2 separate regions of the Homo sapiens genome follow, and region 1 is linked to region 2. Evidence: fine-mapped expression QTL. A gene starts in region 2. The other region holds a variant in brackets. All regions are shown on one strand. Distances are from middle to middle. Region 1 overlaps TRIM14 (tripartite motif containing 14). Region 2 holds the start of TRIM14 (tripartite motif containing 14).

What was found.
Region 1: its variant is fine-mapped to the expression of TRIM14 in whole blood (INTERVAL, PIP above 0.99).

Annotation. Positions count from the first base shown.
Region 1 is chr9:98,090,040-98,092,949 of GRCh38, forward strand. TRIM14 (tripartite motif containing 14) reads right to left here. Exons shown (of 6, transcript NM_014788.4): 5 at 1,870-1,962. Among named protein-coding and RNA genes, the nearest start is that of TRIM14, 28 kb to the right of the region's middle. RefSeq lists an enhancer at 613-1,172. The variant A/AAAATAAAT (reference allele first, on the strand shown) is at 1,745.
Region 2 is chr9:98,117,935-98,120,844 of GRCh38, forward strand. It overlaps TRIM14 (tripartite motif containing 14), which reads right to left and starts at 1,288. Exons shown (of 6, transcript NM_014788.4): 1 at 1,048-1,288. The coding sequence starts at 1,254. RefSeq lists an enhancer at 762-811 and a silencer at 1,122-1,221.

The DNA.
Region 1 (2,910 bases), 28 kb before region 2:
TTGGATATATGTCTAAGGTGGGAGAAAATGCTGCTCATTATAACCACTTCTATTCAACAATGTTCTAAATGTAGTAGACAGTAACTCAAGGCACGAAAAAGAAGTGAAAGGAAAGAATAAAGATCGGGGAAATGAAAGATTATTATTCATAGGTGACATGCTTATTTACACAAAAACCCAAATAATCTGTAGATAGCTTAGAAGTACTAAGTGAATTTATAACAGCCACTCAGTATGTCAATATACAAAAATGGATAAATCTCATATTGAGTGAAAGAAGCAAAACACAGAAGGGTATAGTGTGAATGATCTACTGAAAGTTCAAAAACAGGTAAAACTAACCTATAGTCCTAGAAGTCTGGAGAGTGGATCCCCTTTGGGGATAGTAAACAAGAAGGCACATGAGGAAGACTTCTGGGGAGTGGAAATTTCCATTTCTTGATCTGAAGGTGGTTACAAAATATGTTTCCTTTTTAAAAAATCATTGAGCTGATTGATCTGCACATTTTTGATTTGTGCACTTTTTTTTTTTTTTTTTTTTTTAAGACGGAGTCTTGCTCTGTTGCCAGGCTGGAGTGCAGTAGTGCGACCTCGGCTCACTGCAACCTTCGCCTCCCGGGTTCAAGCGATTCTCCTGCCTCAGTCTCCTGAGCAGCTAGGACTACTGGTGCATGCCACCATGCCCAGCTAATTTTTGTATTTTTAGTGGAGACAGGGTTTCACCATGTTGTGCAGGCTGGTCTCGAACTGCTGACCTCAAGTGATCCACCTGCCTTGGGTTCCCAAAGTGCTGGGATTACAGGTGTGAGCCACCGTGCTCGGCCTTTAAATCAGTATGTTAGCCTTTGTATGGAAAATGTAAATTTATTCAGTGCCTCTGTTTTGATATTCACTGTCCCCCTCCCAACACCAGGGGCAGTGATCACCATTCTTTGGTTTCCCTCTGTCTCCTGATGGTTACTTTGCACTTGAATAAACTCTGCTAACTGGATACTGAGCCTTCTTTAGATTGAGTCTTTTTTAGGTTGACACCCAGTAATTCCACTTGAGAAATTACTCCTAAAAAATAATCTGAAAATGAGGTATGGTGTGTTCATTCTCTCATTCATTAATTCAATTCAACAAATGTGTACAAGAATGGATGTTTATTACAGCATTGTTTTAGAAATGAAAATGTAAACATCCAACATTATGAGATTGGCTAAATATGACACATCCATTCAATGCAATGCCATGCAACCTCTAAAAACAATGATAAAAATAAAAAATTAGCTGGGCATGGTGGCACACACTGATAGTCCCAGCTATGAGGGAGGCTGAGGTGGGAAAATCATTTGTGCCCAAGAGGTCGAGGCTGCAGTGAGCCATGACTGCACCACTGCACTCCAGAGCAAGACTCGGTCACACACACACACACACATAGTGATAATATTAGCTGGGCACAGTGGCTCACTGTATAAATCCCAAATATATATATGTTCATAATATATCAGTAAATGAAAACAGATGACAAAACAGTATGTATAGTATGACACCACGTTTGTAACATAAAAAGATATATTAAATATATCATTATATGCATATTAGATGTGCTAAAAAAGCTAAAAGGACAAATAATAATAGCAGTTATTCACAGAAGAGGGATTATGAGTAACTTTTTTCTTTCATTTTCTAATTTTTCTACAATGAACATGTATTGTTTTATTGCCTTTAATAATAAACATTTTTTAAAAAACAAGTTCTT[A/AAAATAAAT]AAATAAATAAATAAATAAATTCTAATGAGAAAAAAAGAGGGACCTCCATTTCCATGATCCTCCTCCACCCAACATCCCACCATCTCCACCGTCTCCACCCTATCCCCACTCCCGGGGGTCTTACATTTCAGCAATAGCGATCGCTCTGGTGAGGGGCTGGTTTTCAACAAGGTACCTGGCTTGGTGCTGGAAGGGTCTGAGAGCTGGCAGTTTATGCCTGTAAGGAATTGTTGAGAAATGAGCGCCCGGAGCTTATGCAAGCAGACAAATAAGACGTGCTAAAAATACCACACAACTGGAGATTCGCATAATCTCGCCCAAGAGCCAGGCAGATTTAAGGGATTTATGTGAATTCACAGGGACAGGAAAACCCCAGGATGACAAGGCTGGTGTGGGAGAGTCCTAAATAGGAGGAGGAGCTGAGGCGCGAACAACTACTGGATCCAACACTCAAGGATGGGCGGCGACTCAGGGAAGATGTGCAGATTCCAGGGTAAAGATGGAAAACAAGAAAGTAGAGCTGAGTCCTCAGGAAGGTCTGAGTGCTCAGAAAGAAAGAAGGAGGGGAGTCTATCCCAACAAGCGGGCACAGCAGGGGCACCCAGGGCCCTTGGCACTTGCTGTGCCCTCTGCCTGGACAGCCCCCCCACACCCTTCCCCCCTTGCCCAGGTTGCCTCCTTCCCAGCTATTGGGGCCGCAGCTCACTCAGCACCTCCGCAGAAGTGCCTTCCGCCCCCATCACTCCCAGCACTCATCACAGGGGCCTGTAGAGATCTGTGGGAAGCCCACCTGCAGGCTGTTTAAATCAAGTTTTGCCTAAAGCTCCTCCTTACATCTTTTAAGTTCGGCCTACATATTTTTCTGTACGTCATGAACAATAACAAGTGGAGGTGTAAACAGACCGTAGCCTGCACTTGTGCCAATCACCAAGTTTTGGCCAATCAGATGTAGCCAACTGTTCAAATTGTGTTCAAATTAGGCGAACGCCGAGCTGTAACCAATCCAGCTGCTTCTGTACCTCACTTCTGTTTTCTGTACGTCGCTTTCCTTTTTCTGTCCCTAAATCTTCTTCCACCACGTGGCTGTGCTGGAGTCTCTGAGTGCACTGTGGCTCAGAGGGCTGCCGGATTCATGAATCGTTCATTGCTCATTTAAACTCCTTTA
Region 2 (2,910 bases):
CGTTAAAAAAAGGAAGGGTCTGGTGGCAGGGACAGGTCTTGAGCCCACGACTCCACTGGATTGTCCCCCATGATCCCCTTTTCACCTTGGAGTTCCAAGGTTGTCACAGTGTGGTGGTCTGGAGTCATGCAGTACCGGAGAAAGGCTCACGATGGGGCTGAATTCATCACAGAAGACTTCTTGGAGACAAGTGGTAGGATCAACAGCTGTCAGACATGAGGGCCTACCTCACCCAGGCTTCATGAAACCCAGAGAGAGAGAAGGATTTGAGAGAAGCCACAGAAAAAGTCAGCTGGGAAGCTGGAGCAGGAGCCCAGAGCCCCTGGGGCACTGTTAGGATTATGCATGGGTAAGGGTTCCACGGTGACAATGGCCCTGTTGGGGGCATCTGGCTAATGGAGTCCTGGGTTCAAGGCCTGCCCCTGCCTCCAGAGCCTTCCTCTTGTGGCCTATAAAATGGCTGTAATAATAATGGCTCACCCAGGGCTGCTATGAGCAGGAATGGGAGTGTCTGTGTGGCCGGGGAGGGGAGAGGAGGTAGGTAGTGACAGCTGAGGCTGCTCCCAGGGCAGTCAGGCCGTCCTCAGCTCAAAGTTCACAGGCCCTTTCTGTGGACTGCAGATTAAGTAAACCTGAGATGTCTGTGTGGCTTTCTGAGCTACACAGGGCTGTTTATTAAGAGGGAGAGTTTGTACCTCTGTTAACTAAAAGGCAGACTGTCTTCCAGCCCAATGGCAGTGTGGCGGATCGGCCATGGTGGACACGGTCAAGGACATCTGGGTACCAGCCTGGGCTCCCAACCTCTCACTCCTAAACCCACCTTTTCTGAAGCTCAACTGATGGCTTTGGCTCGCCTTTGCCCTTCCTTGGGTCTCAGGCTCCCGCTCTGAACTTTCGGTCGACCGCTTAGACGCCCTCTGGGGCACCTTTGGTTTCCAGGTTGTAACCCGCCACTGGCCACGGCCAGGCACGCCCCCTCCTCGGCCGTTATGCCTGGGCTGGCTCCCCCAACTCCCGCGCGGCGAACCCCGTCCCCATCGTCCCCACCTGCACGTGCACCGCTGCCTCCAGCGCCAGGCCCACAGGGTGGCCACGGTGCGCGCCCAGCACCGGGCAAAGCGCGCACACGCAGCGGCGGCAGCGGCGACAGAAGAGCTCAGCCACGCGGTCGCCATGCTCCGGGCAGCGCCAGCCGCATCCCTCGACAAGCTCCGACCTCCCAGGGGTCCGGCTCCCGGTCGCCGCGCCCGCCATTCATCTCCACCTCCTCCGGCTCCCCGGGACACAGGGCGGGGCTCCCAAGGGAAACCGAAACCTCGGCCGTGGGCGGGGCGGCTCCAGGCCGGCCGGCCGACCCCTAGGAGGATGACAGCCCGCCGGGAGCAGCGTCGGGCCTCGGAGCATCCTCCGACCAGCAGGGTGCTCCCTCTGCCCGCCCAGGCCGGGAGGTGGTCCCACCAGAAATGGGAAGCTCCTAATGAGCCAGCTAGGAGAGGGTGGGCTTCCTGCTTAATGACGCTGTTCCAGTAACGCCCAGAAAACTGCAGCCCTGATGATGGGACCAAAGTTGGCTGTGACCTTCCGGGGGTGCTCCTCTCACTTTCCCTTGATCCTCTCTTGCCCTTTTCCCCGGAAAGATAATCATTCCCACAACTGTAAGATACCTTCATCAACCTCAAATAAGGACACAGAGATTCTCCAATTGAGTTTATTTCGGACTGAGCAGAAGGATTGCAATTCGGGAATAAATGTGCCATGGCACCCAAGGGGTGGGGACGCGGAGTACTCAGGGAGGCAAAGGAAAGCAGAGGCTTTTAAAGGCAAAACGAGGAGGATTGCATATACTGTTTTTTTTGTTTGTTTGTTTGTTTTTGTTTTTTTTTTTTTTTTTTTTTTTTGGAGACGGAGTCTCGGTCTGTCGCCCAGGCTGGAGTGCAGTGGCGCCATCTCTGCTCACTGCAAGCTCCGCCTCCCGGGTTCACGCCATTCTCCTGCTTCAGCCTCCCGAGTAGCTGGAACTACAGGCGCCCGCCACCACGCCCGGCTAATTTTTTGTATTTTTAGTAGAAAAGGGGTTTCACTGTTTTAGCCAGGATGGTCTCGATCTCCTGACCCCGTGATCTGCCCGCCTCGGCCTCCCAAAGTGCTGGGATTACAGGCGTGATCCACCGCGCCCGGCCAGATCGTTTTAAAATAATAATACTTGGTTACAAGAATTAATACAGGTGGCTTCAGTCCAAAAGTTGAACAGGCAGTTGCTGGGCAGATGTCCTCATATCATGGCTTTTGTGCAAGGTTGTGGTTCTTTGTGCAAGGTTGCAGTTTGGTGGAATCTTTTGCAATAATAGTTCCTGTTACCAGGCAAATCGTTGATGAGGGCCCCCCACTTCATGGCCTCCCAGCACCATTTAGTTTGTTTGAGACAGGATCTCGCTCTGTTGCCCAGGCTGGAGTGCAATAGTGCGATCATAGCTCACTGCAGCCTCTAACTCCTGGGCTCAAGTGATCTTCCCACCTCATCTCTGGAGTAGCTGGGACTACAGGAGCACCATTTAGTTTGGTTTTGATGTAAGTGACTCTGTTTTGGTACTGACAACTTTCACACACACACCACCACCCCAAATTCCAGTTGCCCCCCCAGGCTCAAGTCTAGACTTCCACTTATAAAGCCCTCAGCTCTTTCTTAAGATCCTTGGTCTCCGCCCTGCCTATGCTCCACCCTGTGCTTTTTCAAGACTGGGGGACGTGCAGTTTACCCTGCTTGGAACATTCTTCTTCCCAAATGCCCTTTGCCCTGAGTATTCCAACTTACTCTGCAGGTTTCTACCTTACTATCTTTTCCTCCAGGAAGCCTTCCCTCCTTCTCCTTCCAGAACAGCCTATGCTTTCCCTATCCTGGCCCTCCCCATT